2 linked regions of the Homo sapiens genome follow. The protein of the gene in region 1 purifies or fractionates together with the protein of each later gene. This does not show direct contact. Each region holds a gene or a part of one and is shown on either strand. Other genes may lie near its edges.

Evidence for each region.
Region 2: the proteins of RIBC1 (region 1) and TNKS1BP1 purify together in Homo sapiens (co-immunoprecipitation; 3 studies listed by BioGRID and IntAct, with this or other methods). This does not show direct contact.

What each region holds. Positions count from the first base shown.
Region 1 is NC_000023.11:53,418,920-53,425,902, reverse strand, and holds the start of RIBC1 (RIB43A-like with coiled-coils protein 1), read right to left. Parts: upstream 3,031-6,983; 5' UTR 2,899-3,030; exon of another isoform or gene 2,765-2,898; intron 2,590-2,764; 5' UTR 2,501-2,589; intron 1-2,500. Other genes in the region: SMC1A (structural maintenance of chromosomes protein 1A), read left to right, coding at 3,303-3,411.
Region 2 is NC_000011.10:57,314,923-57,321,952, forward strand, and holds part of TNKS1BP1 (182 kDa tankyrase-1-binding protein), read right to left. Parts: intron 7,029-7,030; 5' UTR 6,964-7,028; coding exon 6,870-6,963; intron 5,791-6,869; coding exon 5,157-5,790; intron 2,966-5,156; coding exon 2,896-2,965; intron 1-2,895.

The DNA of each region.
Region 1 (6,983 bases):
AACCCCCTTTGCCAGATTTATAAGGTTCTTCATGATCTGACCCCTGCTCACCTTTCTAAGCCTCAAACACATCTACAACACTCCTTTTTCATTATACTCTATTCAGTTTTCCTTATTTCAGTAAGTGGCACCACCATTCACCAAGTTGCTCCGGTCAAAAACCTAGGAGACATCCTTTAATCCTTCCTTTCCCTCACTCCTTCTTCTTTCAAAATAACCCTTATCCAAGCCACCATTGCCAGCTTCCTGAATAACCACAACTGTCTCCATGTTGGTATTCCAGCTTCCTCTATTGACTCCTATAGCCCAATCACAGAAACCAGAAGCAGCTTTCTTTTCTGAAATATATGTCCCCCCACCCTTTTTTTTTTTTTTTTTTTTTTTTTTACTTTTATTACTTATTTTCTGGTCAAATGAAAGGCTAGAAAGCTAAATTTGCCTGTGTTCCTTCATATTTTGGGAAGCTCACTTTTGGCATGTAACCCAGCCAAAGCTGCAGCCAAAAAAACTTTAGCAAACATAAATCTGATCATGTCTCTCACCTGCTTAAATCCTCCACTAGCTTCCCACTATACTTAGAATCAGATCCAAACTCCTTACTGTGGGCTTTCAAGATCTAGTTCCTGCACACCTCTCCAATTTGTCTCAAACCACTGTCTCCCTTGCTTACAGTGCTCCAGGCAAGCTGATCAAGTCCTCCAACACAGTAATTGTTCCCACCCCGGGGCCTTTGTATGTGCTGTTCCTTTGTTTGGAGCGTGATTCTTTAATTCCTCCTATAGCTATTTGGATCTTTTTGGTGTTTTGTTTTGTTTTCCATTTTGTAACTGTGAAGTAGTTGAACATATATGCCCGGCTGATTTTTGTATTTTTAGTAGAGATGGGGTTTCACAGTGTTAGCCAGGATAGTCTCAATCTCCTGACCTTATGATCCACCCTCCTTGGCCTCCCAAAGTGCTGGGATTACAGGCATGAGCCACCACACCTGGCCCCATTTAATTTTTTTTAATATAGATGGGGTCTCACTATATTGCCCAAGCTAGTCTTGAACTCAAGCAATTCTCCTGCCTCGGCCTCCCAAAGTGCTGGTATTACAGGCATGAGCCATTGTGCCCGGCGTCACTTAGGTTTTTAATCCACTTGGAGTTGCATTTTGTGTATGGTGTGAGATAAGGATCCAATTTAATTTTCCCCCCAAGTGCCATCTCATCTTTTTTAAATTTAAAATTTTATTTTATTTTTGGCCGGGCGCGGTGGCTCACGCCTGTAATCCCAGCACTTTGGGAGGCCGAGGCAGGTGGATCAGGAGGTCAGGAGTTCAAGACCAGCCTGGCCAACATAGTGAAACCCTGTCTTTACTAAAAATACAAAAAAATTAGCCAGGCGTGGCAGTGGGCACCTGTAATCCTAGCTACTTGGAAGGCTGAGGCAGAGAATAAAATTTATTTTATTTTTAATTTGTTTTAGATGGGGTCTCTCTCTGTTGCCCAGGATGGAGTGTAGTGGTGCAATCATGGCTCACTGCAGCCTCAAACTCCTGGGCTCAAAGGATCTTCCTGCCCCAGCCTCCTGAGTAGCTGGGACTACAGGTGTGTGCCACCATGCCTGCCTAATTTTTAAAATTTTTTTGTAGAGATTGGGTTTTGCTATGTTACCCAGGCTCACCATCTCATCTTTTAAAAGGGAACAGTATTTCCCCATGGATTACATGAGATTGCTGTCTTTTAGCCATTTTATCCCCTCAGCCTGATTGTTTCTCCCAGCTGAACTTCATTTATGGCTCCCCTACTAGATTCCATCTACCAAGCTTCCTCCCTTTATTTATTTTTGAGACAGGGTATTGCTCTGTCACCTAGGCTGGAGTGAAGTGGTGCGGACACCACTCACTACAGCCTCAACCTCCCAGGCTCAAGTGATCCTCCTGCTTCGGCATCCTGGGTAGACCAGAGGTGAGAGCTGCCACACCCAGCTAATTTTTTAATTTTTAGTAGAGATAGGGTCTCACTATGTTGCCCAGGCTGGTCTTGAACTGCTGGTCTCAAGTGATCCTCCTGCCTTGGCCTGCCTCCCTCACGATGGGATTACAGTTGTCAGCCACCATGCCCAGCCACTTCCTCACTTTCCTGGACTTGTCCTAAGTCTTTAGGACTCTTTCTAGCCTTCGGACATAATTTAATAAATAGTTAAAGGAATAATTATGGCAACCACCAGATCCTTTCCATGTTTAAGTCTGAGAATGGCACCAACTTACCTACTGGTTTCACCTGCCATTACAGTATAAGGTCACTGAAGGGGAAGATTCAGCTGACATTTTAAGCTTCTTGGATTGCTAAGGCCCCTGCCTTATTAATGATAGAGAGCAGAGAGGGAAGAGAGGTAAGGTGGCATTGTGGTATAGAGCTGTGGGAATGGGATGGGGGAGAGGCATGGAGGCAGAGGTAGGTGGAGGTGGAGAGCGCTGGCTTAGGGACCCTGACTCCTGGGGGTTCACACAAAATACCTTTCTCAGTAAGGAATCCCGATTTTGAAGCTCTTAGGTTGGCTCTGCATGCAACTTTGTTCTTGGGTTACGGCGGCAGTTTCTGAACTCTGCTTGGTACAACAGGAGGGAGGCAGGGGATAGGGGTAGTATCTCAGGCCGTAGCCTTCCCCAGCCTGTATCCCTGTTGCCTGGGAGTAGCCCCAGTCCCATTCACAACCCGTCCGCCTTCGCAACCCGTCCCGCCACCAATCCCACCCCACCATTAGCAAAGTCTGAGCTCACCTAACACTGAATCCTCCCGTTGGCCCCTCCTTCCCGTCCAGCTCTCCGCTCCCCCCGGGTCCTTCCAATTCCCGACCCTGTCCTTGTCCTAGCCTTGAAAGCTGGCCAGGCTAAAGCCACAGCCGAGCTCCCACCTTCCTCTTGCCCTGAGGGGCATAATCCTGCTGTGACTTCTGTCTCAGCAAGCGTGAGCTCAGGTCTCCCCCGCCTCCTTGAACCTCAAGAACTGCTCTGACTCCGCCCAGCAACAACTCCTCCGGGGATCTGGTCCGCAGGAGCAAGTGTTTGTTGTTGCCATGCAACAAGAAAGGGGGGCGGAGGCACCACGCCAGTCGTCAGCTCGCTCCTCGTATACGCAACATCAGTCCCCGCCCCTGGTCCCACTCCTGCCGGAAGGCGAAAATCCCGTTAGGCCTGGACGTATTCTCGCGACATTTGCCGGTCGCCCGGCTTGCACTGCGGCGTTTCCCGCGCGGGCTACCTCAGTTCTCGGGCGTACGGCGCGGCCTGTCCTACTGCCGCCGGCGCCGCGGCCGTCATGGGGTTCCTGAAACTGATTGAGATTGAGAACTTTAAGTCGTACAAGGGTCGACAGATTATCGGACCATTTCAGAGGTTCACCGCCATCATTGGACCCAATGGCTCTGGTGAGATAAACCTGGCCGCGGCCCTGCGCACGTCCCGGCCTGGACCCCTTATCCGGTGCCGGAGTAGTACAACCCAGCCCATGTAACCTGAAACGTCGCGGACCCTTACGGGTTCCTTGCCCGTCCAGAGGGGGTTCTGCTCGAACCCACTCTCCCCGCGCGGGTGCTCTAACTCGAACCCCTTCCAGGTGTCACTTGCCGCTTCCTGCGCGGCCCCCGCCCCGGCCCAGTGGTACAGGCCGAGCTGCCAGTTACCCCGCCTACTTCCCCCTCCCGCCAAAGGAGTCGCGTCTGGAACCAGCTTCCCGCCAGCTCAGTCCTCCGCCGCGCGGCTCCCCGCCGGACCGGCCGGAGCCGGCTTCCCAGCCTTACTTGACCCCCTCCGGAGAATGTGGGGACGCTGGTAGCTCTCCCGTGGCCTTCGGTCCCAAACGGTGCACTTCTGTTTCAGCCCAGCGTCCTCTCTCGCCTCGCATTGGTACACTCCAACTCCTTTCTACTCTTCTCTGGAGGCGGCACTTTTGAATTTCAGACCCAGCGCTCCAGTCTTTAGAATGCTTGAGGTGTCGATCCCCACCCCCCACCGCTATGTCAGAGGTAGTTGCCTCGAACTCGCCCTTTTCCTACCACCGAAACCGTCAAAAGCCGAAATTAACTAATTTACCAAATTTGTTGAATGCTTATTGTTTATCAGGAGTTATTCAGTTGCAAGTTGTGGAAACAGCGGAGAATAGAATAAACCAACTCCATGCTCACAGGGAACTTATATTCCAGAGGGGAAAGAAGATAAGGAGAAAATAAGATGGTTTTAGGCTGTCATAAGTGCTATACAGGAAATGAGACAGGTGGATGTGATAAAGTGACTTAGGTGGTGTCTTTAGAAAGGGTGGTCAGGTAAAGCCTCTATTTTGTGTCTTCCCAACTCTAAACGATACACCGTGGATTCCTCTCACCTCAGATGTCCATTTGGAATCCTGCTGTATTCTTCCACCCCAGAGATGTTCTAGCTGAATGATATCCTAGCCTAAGAGGCTGCCCTTGCTGAAGTAGCACATACTGAGTACCTTTCCTGGAGACTGAGTGTCTCAACAGTGGCACTATTGACATTTCCAGCGAGATAATCCTTTGCTGTGGGATGTGCTCTGTGCATTGTAGGATGTTTAACAGCATCTCTGGCATCTACCTGCTAGATAACAGTAGCACCCCTGCTCCCCAGGCATGACAATCAAAACTGTCTCTAGACATTGCTAGATGTCACAGAGGGTGTGTGTGATTCCCCCAACCCCCCAACTTGTTTGAGAACCACTGGCCTGGAGGGCTAATGCTTGGTGTCCACCCAGTTTCCTCGGGTTTTAGTGTAGTGGCCCCTGTTGGAAGAGCTAGGATGTACCTCTTGGCATTCAGTCCCCTCAGCATTAGTAGATTTGTATTCCCAGCTGTTCTGAAAAGGGCTATGGCACTCCCCCACTTGCCCCCGTTCTTCAAGGCCCACCTCTACAAGCCATTCCTTTAGTCCCTTTGGTGAGTGAGTCTTCCTCTGTGGCATACCGTAGACACTTGGTACACGTTAATGTTTATTAAGTCCTATATTGATGGTGCATGTTTTTGTATCTTCATTGGCCTGTGAGTACCCTAAAGCAGACATTCCTTGAAACGTTTTACTGGTGTTCAGTCCATAATATATATTACAAAAATGTTTACCATATTGATTGTGATTAGAGAGGCTTGGGGTTGTGAGATGATGTTGTCCTCCCTGGAAATGATGGGAGAAGCCCAAAGGTTGGATATTGGTTCCTAAAAGGCTGACTCCTGGTCTGCATGATGTGCTAGTCCTGCTGTGATGAGGGAGACAGCTGAGTCCAGACTTAGGATAGGACTAATTAATTGAGTACCTACTCTGTGTGTCAAGTACTTTATTTATTGGGACCCTGTTTTTTCTTTTTCTTTTTCTTTTCTTTTTTTTTTTTTTTGAGACAGTCTTGCTCTGTTGTCCAGGCTGGAGTGCAGTGGCATGATGTTGGCTCACTGCAACCTCTGCCTCTTGGGTTCAAGTGATTCTCGTGCCTCAGCCTCCCAAGTAGCTGGGACTACAGGCGTGCGCCACCCCATCTGGCTAGTTCTTGTATTTTTAGTAGAGTTGGTGTTTCTCCCAGTTGGCCAGGCTGGTCTCAAACTCCTGGGCTCAAGTGATCTGCCTGCCTCAGCCTCCCAAAGTGCTGGGATTACAGGCATGAGCCACTGCACCCAGCCAAGGGACCCTTTACAATTAAATTCTCAAAATGACCCTAGGAGGAAAATGCCAATAGCTTCGTTTTATACATGAGGAGACTAAGGCACAGAGGTGTGATAACTTGTCCGTGGTTCTCAGAACCCATGCCTGTGCTCCTGCCACTCCAATAGAGAAGTATGTGCCGCACATATTTTTAGACCCGTGAATTGTGGTTTTTTTCATCTTTTTCCAGGTGAGGGAATGGAAGGTCAGCTAAGTGGTAGTGAAAGTAAGATTAGAACCTGGTCTGTTGGTTCTAAGCCCAAGTTTGCAAGCTTTTTTAGATGGAGTCTCACTCTGACGCCCACACTGGAGTGCAGTGGCATGACCTCGGCTCACTGCAACTTCTGCCTGCTGGGTTCAAGTGATTCTTTTCTTTTTTTTCTTTTTTTTTTTTTTGAGATGAAGTCTTTCTCTGTCGCCCAGGCTGGAGTGCAGTGGCGTGATCTCAGCTCACTGCAACCTCTGCCTCCCGGGTTCAAGCTATTCTCCTGCCTCAGCCTCCTGAGGAGCTGGGATTACAGGCGTGCACCACTATGCCCGGCCAGTTTTTGTATTTTTAGTAGAGACGGGGTTTCACCACGTTGTTCAGGCTGGTCTCAAACTCCTGACCCCGTGATCTGCCCACCTGGGCCTCCCAAAGTGCTGCGATTACAGGTGTGAGCCACCGCGCCTGGCCTATTTTTTTTTTTTTTGGAGTCAGGGTCTTGCTCTGTCACCAAGGCTGGCATACAGTGGCACAATCATGGCTCACTGCAGCCTCAACTTCTCGGGCTCAAGCAACCCTCCCATCTCAGCCTTCCCAGTAGTCAGGACAACTGGAGTGTGCCACCATGCCGAGCCAATTTTTGTATTTTTTGTAGAGATGGGATTTTGCCATGTTGTCCAGGCTGGTCTCAAACTCCCGAGGTCAAGTGATCCACCCACGTCTGCTTCCCAGAGTGCTGGGATTACAGGCGTGAGATGCCGTGTCCAACCTAATCATAGTCTTATACCGTCTCTATGGAAGGACTTGGGCTGCTGTTTTTATGGCTGAGTAGAAAGGTGTTGGAAATCAGATCTTCAGTTCAAAGTCATATATAAGTTCTTTAGGGACAGTCTTGAGATAGAAATTATAGAGACTAAACTGTTCCTCCTTATCCACCAGCCCGACTAAACTTTTTTTTTTTTTTTTTTTTTTTTGAGACAGAGTCTCTCTCTGTCGCCCAGGTTGGAGTGCAGTGGCGCGATCTCAGCTCACTGTAACCTCCACCTCCTGGGTTTAAGCGATTCTCGTGCCTCAGCCTCCCGAGTAGCTGGGATT
Region 2 (7,030 bases), on another chromosome or scaffold:
GCAACGTTCTAATGTCAAAGCTCGTGCCCTTAAACTACAGCACCCACAATTCTTTCTTGTTATTGACCCTTACGCACCCATCATTCCTTGAAAACCATAACCGCTGCATCACTGCAACCCTCTCCATCATTGTTGTGATAGCTTACAGTCATCTCCATAGCCAGATGCGACCCTTCCAGCCTCTGGTTCGTTGACCTCCTCTTCCTCAGTGACTGTGCGACCCATCCTCTCAAGGTCACACCCTAGACCTCATCCTTACCAGTGGCTGCAACCTCTGCATCATCTCAATCCCAAGTATCCCACTTGCCCACCCCCACCGCCTATCTGACCGGCTCACTCTATTTCCCCAACGCCCTTATTTTCAGCCCCTCTCATAGCACAGCCCCTTAACCCTAATTCTTTCTCATTGTCCCCCACTCCCCTCATACCCTCACCTCTCTTCTTATCACCATTAACGTCACTTTTTACTCAACACTCAACTCCCTCATCTGCTTCATCATACTGTTTAACCTGTTTAAATACAGCTCTCCAATACAGCTGGGCCAATCCTAGCCCAGCACCTGAGTAGCTGCATGTGGCTGGATAAAAACACACAATCGTGACAGCTGGTCTCACTCCAGATTCACTGCTGACCTCAAGCCGGCCCTAGAGCTGCCCAGAATCCCACGGCACTCCCCCTGCCATTCACTCCATGACTCTCCCAGGCAATGTTTTAGCATCTTCTCCCGTCAGACCTCCACACCTCCCCCAATCCTCTCTCAGCTGATGGCCTTGCTTCCTGTTCCCTGAGAACACAGAGGCCACCAGCAGAGAACCCCCGACAACCCCCCCACCGCCACACACACACACACCACCTACTTCCTGCATGGGAGCCCAAGCACTCTGCCTCCCCTTCTGCTATCAGGCACTGTCCTCGCTTGGGGCTGAGGTCAATCCCTCCTCTCTCTCCTGCATCGATTTTTTTTTCCCTCTCTACTGGATCATTTCCATCAGCACACAAACTGCTCTAATTTCTTCTGTCTTGAAAAGCCAAAAAAGCAAACCAAAAAACCACTCTTGACCCCACATCACTCACTAGCTACCATCCATTTTCTTGAAAGCCCTGTCTATATTCACTATTAATATCCACAGTTCTTCTTGTCCCCTTCTCTCTTGAAACCACTCCAAACAGGCTTTCTCCTTTACCTTGCCACCTAACTACTCTCGTCAAGGTCACGGATGACCTCCCTGGAGCTGAATCCAATTCTCTGTGCTCATCTTACTTGACCTGTCAGTGGCATCTGACAGCTGATGGCGCCCTCCCCCAGTCCTGGAGGCTGTCTCCACTTGGTGGACTCTCTCACTGTCCTCCCAGTCTCCTTGGCTGTGCCTCTGGGCCCTCCCCTCCTGCACCATCCCCACTCTCAGTAATCTCAGCCAGTCTTCACAAGCATTCCTACTCTGACAATTCCCAAGTGTTCCTTTCAAATTTGCTCACTTCCCTTGAAGGCCAGACTCGACTACCCAACCATCCGCTTGACGTTTCCACATGGATGTCTGAAAACCATCTCAAATTCAACAAATCCACAAAGCAAACTCCTCCCATCTCCCCCGATCCTGCTTCACCCTTAGAAGTCCCCGTCTCGGCAACCATAAACTCATCCTTCCGGTTGCTCAGGCCAAAAGCCGTGGGGTCACCCTTGATTCTGTGCTCTCTATCTATCTGAAAGTCCTTTCCACCATGCCTTCAAATTCTATCCAGAACCAACCACTTCTCCCCATCTCCACCGTAGGCTACCTCCAGGGTCCAAGCCGTCATCATCTCTCACTTGGACTATTCCAACAGCCCCCTGACTGGTCCATGCTGCTGATCTTACCTCCCTGCAACTGATTCTTAATCCAGTGGGCCAGGTGACTCTTCACAACTAAGACAGCAGCATCCCATGCCTCTCCTGCAAACCCTTCAAATGGCCTGTTGCTCTCACTGAAGCCAAAGTCTTTCTAGAGGCCTTCGAGACTTGACACAATCCAACCCCCCAACCCGTTGGTCCTCACTACCACCTAACTCCTCTCTCACTGCCAGGCAGACATCCTGGCCTCCTTGCCAGGAAAGCACCAATGCCTTTGTACTTGCTGTGCCCTCTACCAAGAATGCTGCTCTCCAGACATGCACACAGCTCAGCCTCTGCCCTTCACAGTGACACCTTCCCTGACCACACTCGTCCCTGCACTCTCTACTCTACCTTCACAGCTATCTCCAACATCCAGCTCCTAACAGGCGCTCAGTCACTGCTTGCTGGATGGACAAATGAATCAAGTCAGATCTCCAGCTAGCAAGGGCTGTATGAGCAAAAAGGGCCATCCTGTACCTTGTTTACTCAAGAAAGCAGGCTGACCATCTTCAAGAACGGGAGTATGATGGGAAAATCTCAGCAAAAGGACTCACCCCTCTTCTGAACTCAGAAAAGGCAGCCCAGCCAGGGAAAGCATGGGAGGCAGACACAGTAGCTGCTGCCTCAGCCTAAGTTACTTACCCTTTGTGAGTACAGGTGCTCTCATCTCTCACATGGGACTAACCAGGTCTACTAGCCAGAGTTATCACAAGGATTGAGTTGGTTAACGTTCCCAGGACAGGCCCAGCACATAGTAGGGACTTAATCAATGGCAGTTGTTGTGGATACTATCATTACTGTTTATGATGAATGGCCTCATGGCCTTAACCACACCTAGCCACTTTGGTGATCAAGAGCACTGGCCCAGGAGTCGAAAAATCCCAGGGCCAGCCCTCCAGTGAGTCACTCTCCCCATGGGCCTCAGTTTCCCCATCTGAACTACAAGGAGTAGAAAAGATGATCTCATATGACCCTTCCAGCTCTAAAATACGTGATTCTGATTCATAACTGGAGGATAACTCACATCAGCAGGTAGCTCCGAGCTGGCTGCCTTAGCCAGGTCCCCGTTGAAGGCCAGGTCGGAAGGAAGGCTCCTGTGAGGGACGAGGACAGGAAATGGAAGCACGGAATGTTAGAGTCTGTCACAGAATGGAAAATGTGGGAGAGTCTCCCAGTGCAACTTTAACAGCACCCAAAGGTTAAACCCTCCTAGCCATTTACTCTTGAGCCCTGCCTGCAACTATTAGGGACACAGAATCTGTCCATTTTCCATTCGGCAAGTGCCCCAGAAAACAGTGCTTATTCCCTACCTGAGCATGAAGGGTTAAATTCCCCAGCTACTTTAGGAAAAGCATCCTGGATGCCCAGACCTCTCAACAGCTCCTAAAAAGATAACTCCTCTTTCCTTTAACCCATAAGGAGTTAAAGTTCTCCTCTAGCCAGGAAGAGTGCAGCTGGTCCTGCTGCCCTGCCAATACTTCTTGAAGAATTGCAGTGGGGGAGGGGAAGAGGAAAGAGTGATTTTCCAGGGTTGAAGTTGTTCTTAAGCCCTACTTGGAGTGAGGGAGAGAAGGAAGATGGCGGGTGGAACCCAGCCTGGGCAAGAGTGTGACCTCACAGCACCCTGGTCTGGGACAGGCAAAGGACTAGCTCTGGGGCCAAGGCTCCAGACACTTTCAGGTGAGAGAAGGGCAAGGCCAGAGGGCAGGGCAGGGCAGGGACCCTCAGCTTCCCGCTTAGCCCAGACCACACCAGCTCTTGCCTTCATAGCAGTAGGAAGAGAAAGGGAGCCTCTGAGCCCAGCAGAGCTGTTAAAGGCCCAAGGAGCCAGCCATACCTCAAGCTGGCTCTCCCAGCACTAAGGACAGCCTCTGTGCAGCTGATGGCTCCTGAGATGCCTCAGCCTCTTCCTCCAAAGTCCCGTGCCCAGCACCCCAAGAAGCACCTCCTGGCCAGCCTTGCTTTACACTAGTGGCAACTCTGGAGAAGCGTATCATATGCAAATATCTCCAACCAGCCAAAATCTCTGTGCAGACACTAGCTGGCCTGGCATCAAGATGTGTTCCTCTCGCAGGGCGCAGTGGCTCACGCCTGTAATCCCAGCACTTTGGGAGGCCGAGGCAGGCAGATCACGAGGTCAGGAGATCGAGACCATCCTGGCTAACACAGTGAAACCCCATCTCTACTAAAAATACAAAAAAATTATCCGGGTGTGGTGGCAGGCGCCTGTAGTCCCAGCTACTCGGGAGGCTGAGACAGGAGAATGGCGTGAACCCAGGAGGTGGAGCTTGCAGTGAGCCGAGATTGCGCCACTGCACTCCAGCCTGGATGACAGAGCGAGACTCCGTCTCAAAAAAAAAAAAAAAAAAAAAGATGTGTTCCTCTCTTACCTCTCCCATCAGATTCCACCTCACAGGCAGAGACTGTGCCCTACTCATCCTGACACACGCAGCCCCACCCCAGGACTGGCACACTGCTCTGACCACTGTAAGAGCTGGCACTTAAGAGCAGAGGATTTGGAATCAAACAAACATCTGTCTCTGCCTCTTAACTTGCCGAGACTATGGAGTCATTTTTGAGCCTCAGTTTCCTCATCTCTACAATGGATCTAATACTCCCTTGAACAAACAGGATGCCAACGAGGCAAAGTTTGGTGCCCAGCTCTCAGTATATAGAAACTAAACTTCTTGGCCGGGCGTGGTGGCTCATGCCTGTAATCTCAGCACTTTGGGAGGCCGAAGCAGGCAGATCACCTGAGGTCAGGAGTTCAAGACCAGCCTGGCCAACAGGGTGAAACCCCAACTCTACTAAAAATACAAAAAAATTAGCTGGGCGTGGTGGCCCACGCCTGTAATCCCAGCTACTCAGGAGGCTGAGGAAGGAGAATCACTTGAACCTGGGAGGCAGAGGTTGCAGTGAGCCGAGATCGCACCACTGCACTCCAGCCTGGGTGACAAGAGCAAAACACCATCTCAAAAAAAAAAAAAAAAAAAGTCTATTGTCTATTAAACTTCTATACTGTACATTTGAACTCTCTAACATAAACCTGCATCAACTCTGTAAAGAAAACTACAACTTTAAAAGCATACAGTAATGATAACACCATCTGCTGGGGAATGATTTGTGACCTAGATCGGGATCTGCCTGTACTCACAGCACACAACCAACCTACAGGTAAAAGTCACAACCCTATATGGGGCCATGCACTTGGTCCCCAGCCCCCACCCAATCCCACCCCACCTGACCTCCAGGCTGCCACAAAATATACAACCTCCCACCCTTCACCTCTCCTCAGGGGTCTTGCTGTGCTCTTCCCGGCACTCTGCTGGAGACTTTACTGGCCCCTCCTGGGACCATCCCCTGAAGAGGGTGCTGCCATCCTCATCCCTGGGAGCAGTGGTCGTGCCATAGGTCCTGGGGCCATATCGCGAGCTGCCATCGTGGTTAAAGGTGAGGCGGGAACCCCACAGGCGGTCGGGGCTGGCAAGGACCTCCTTCCGAGGCTGCTCCATCTTGGCCAGGATCTCTTCCACCGTGGTGGCCGCGAAGCGCTCTGAGGCTGGGCGGAAAGGGGCAGGGGCCTTCCGTACACCCCCTGGGGCTGCACATCGAGCTGGGGGTGTCAAAGGGGGTGGCTCCTCTTTCCCAGCCTCCTCTTTCCCAGTCTCTTGGGTGGCTTCTCCTCCAGTGGAGGCCTCAACCGCAGGCCTTGGTGCAAAGGGAAGGGGGCGCTTGCTGCCACCATAGGGCTGGGGTCCTGCCAGCATGTTCATCTTCCTGGCAGAAGGCAACTCAGCCAGGGGACCCCGGGGAGGCCGAGGCCCAACAGGCACCAGCAGGCTGGGTTTGGCAGGCAGGGCTGGCTTGGCAGGCAGGGCCCGGGGTTTGGGCTTGACAGGGGGTTTGGCCCGAGTGTCACCTACCAAAAGGAAAGGGTTGGTGGGGGAGCTGTCAGAAGAACCAGGAAGCAGAACTTCTTTGTTTCCTGTTCCACCTCATCTCCCACCCTCCGATTTAAGAATATTCACATCTTTCTAGGCACAAGTCATATGCCACCTCTTCCATGAAGCCTTCCTTGATTTTCTACACACATCCCCAAAGCATCTTCTCCCTTCTTCAAACTCCCAAAATGTTTTAGCCAATTCCCCTTTTAAGCTGAAGCTATTTAAGGACCCACCTGGCACCTTACTTCTTCCTGTACTGTATTTTGCCCCTAGCATAAGTTATAATTAAACAAAAGAATGAATGAACAAATGAGCCAATAAACAAATGCCTGCCTGTCCCTATCAAGCAGTCAGCCCCCCCATATTCCCAATCTAGTTTTTTCACCTTATGTGACACTCTTCTCTATCATCCATAGTAAACTTTCAATCTCAGCTGAGCTTCTCTATCCTGCCTCCAGGCTGCCTCCTCCCCCACCCACAGCACACTCCCAGGCCACCTCCCCACTGTCATCTGGTGTGTGACTGGGAATGCAAACTTACTATTGACCCAAGTCAAACAAAAGTAAATCTGCTATGGGAAGAAAAAAAAAAACAGGACCAGAAATCTACCTTCTATATAAAGCTAAATGACCTTGGAAGTACCCTCGTCCACAGTCCTCCTGATGGAATCCCGTACCTCCTACACATTTGGCTAAATAGAAGAAAAGAGTCTACACAAGGAGCCAGGAGGTCTGGGTTCAAACTCCCACTTGTACACTCCATTTTTCCCTGTGGGCCTCAGTTTTCCCCTCTGCAAAGCATGCAGCTTGATCCATATCATCTCAAAGGTCCCTGTCTGCTCTTACACCTGTTGGAGATTTATGATCCCAAACAGTTCTGAAGAGTCTCAAGAGAAGCTGAGAACCTTTCAAACTCATCCTGTACTGCCTTGGTACTCCTTCCCTATCTCAACAGAATCATCACTCAACCACCCCCCAAGACAGAAAGAGGGGGCAGCCTCTGTCCTTCCCACCCCCCTCCCAGCCACCTGGCTCCACCCTGCACCCATTGGTACCTGGCTCAGAGCCAGTAGGCACCAGCTCCTCCTCCATCTCCCGGGGCAGTGGGGAAGCCATGGCTGAGCTTTCCCTGAGAGTAGACACTTTCATCACATGCGGCAGACCCTCCTTGAGAGCGGGGAGGCAGAGAGGTATGAGCTGGGGTGGCTGCAGACCT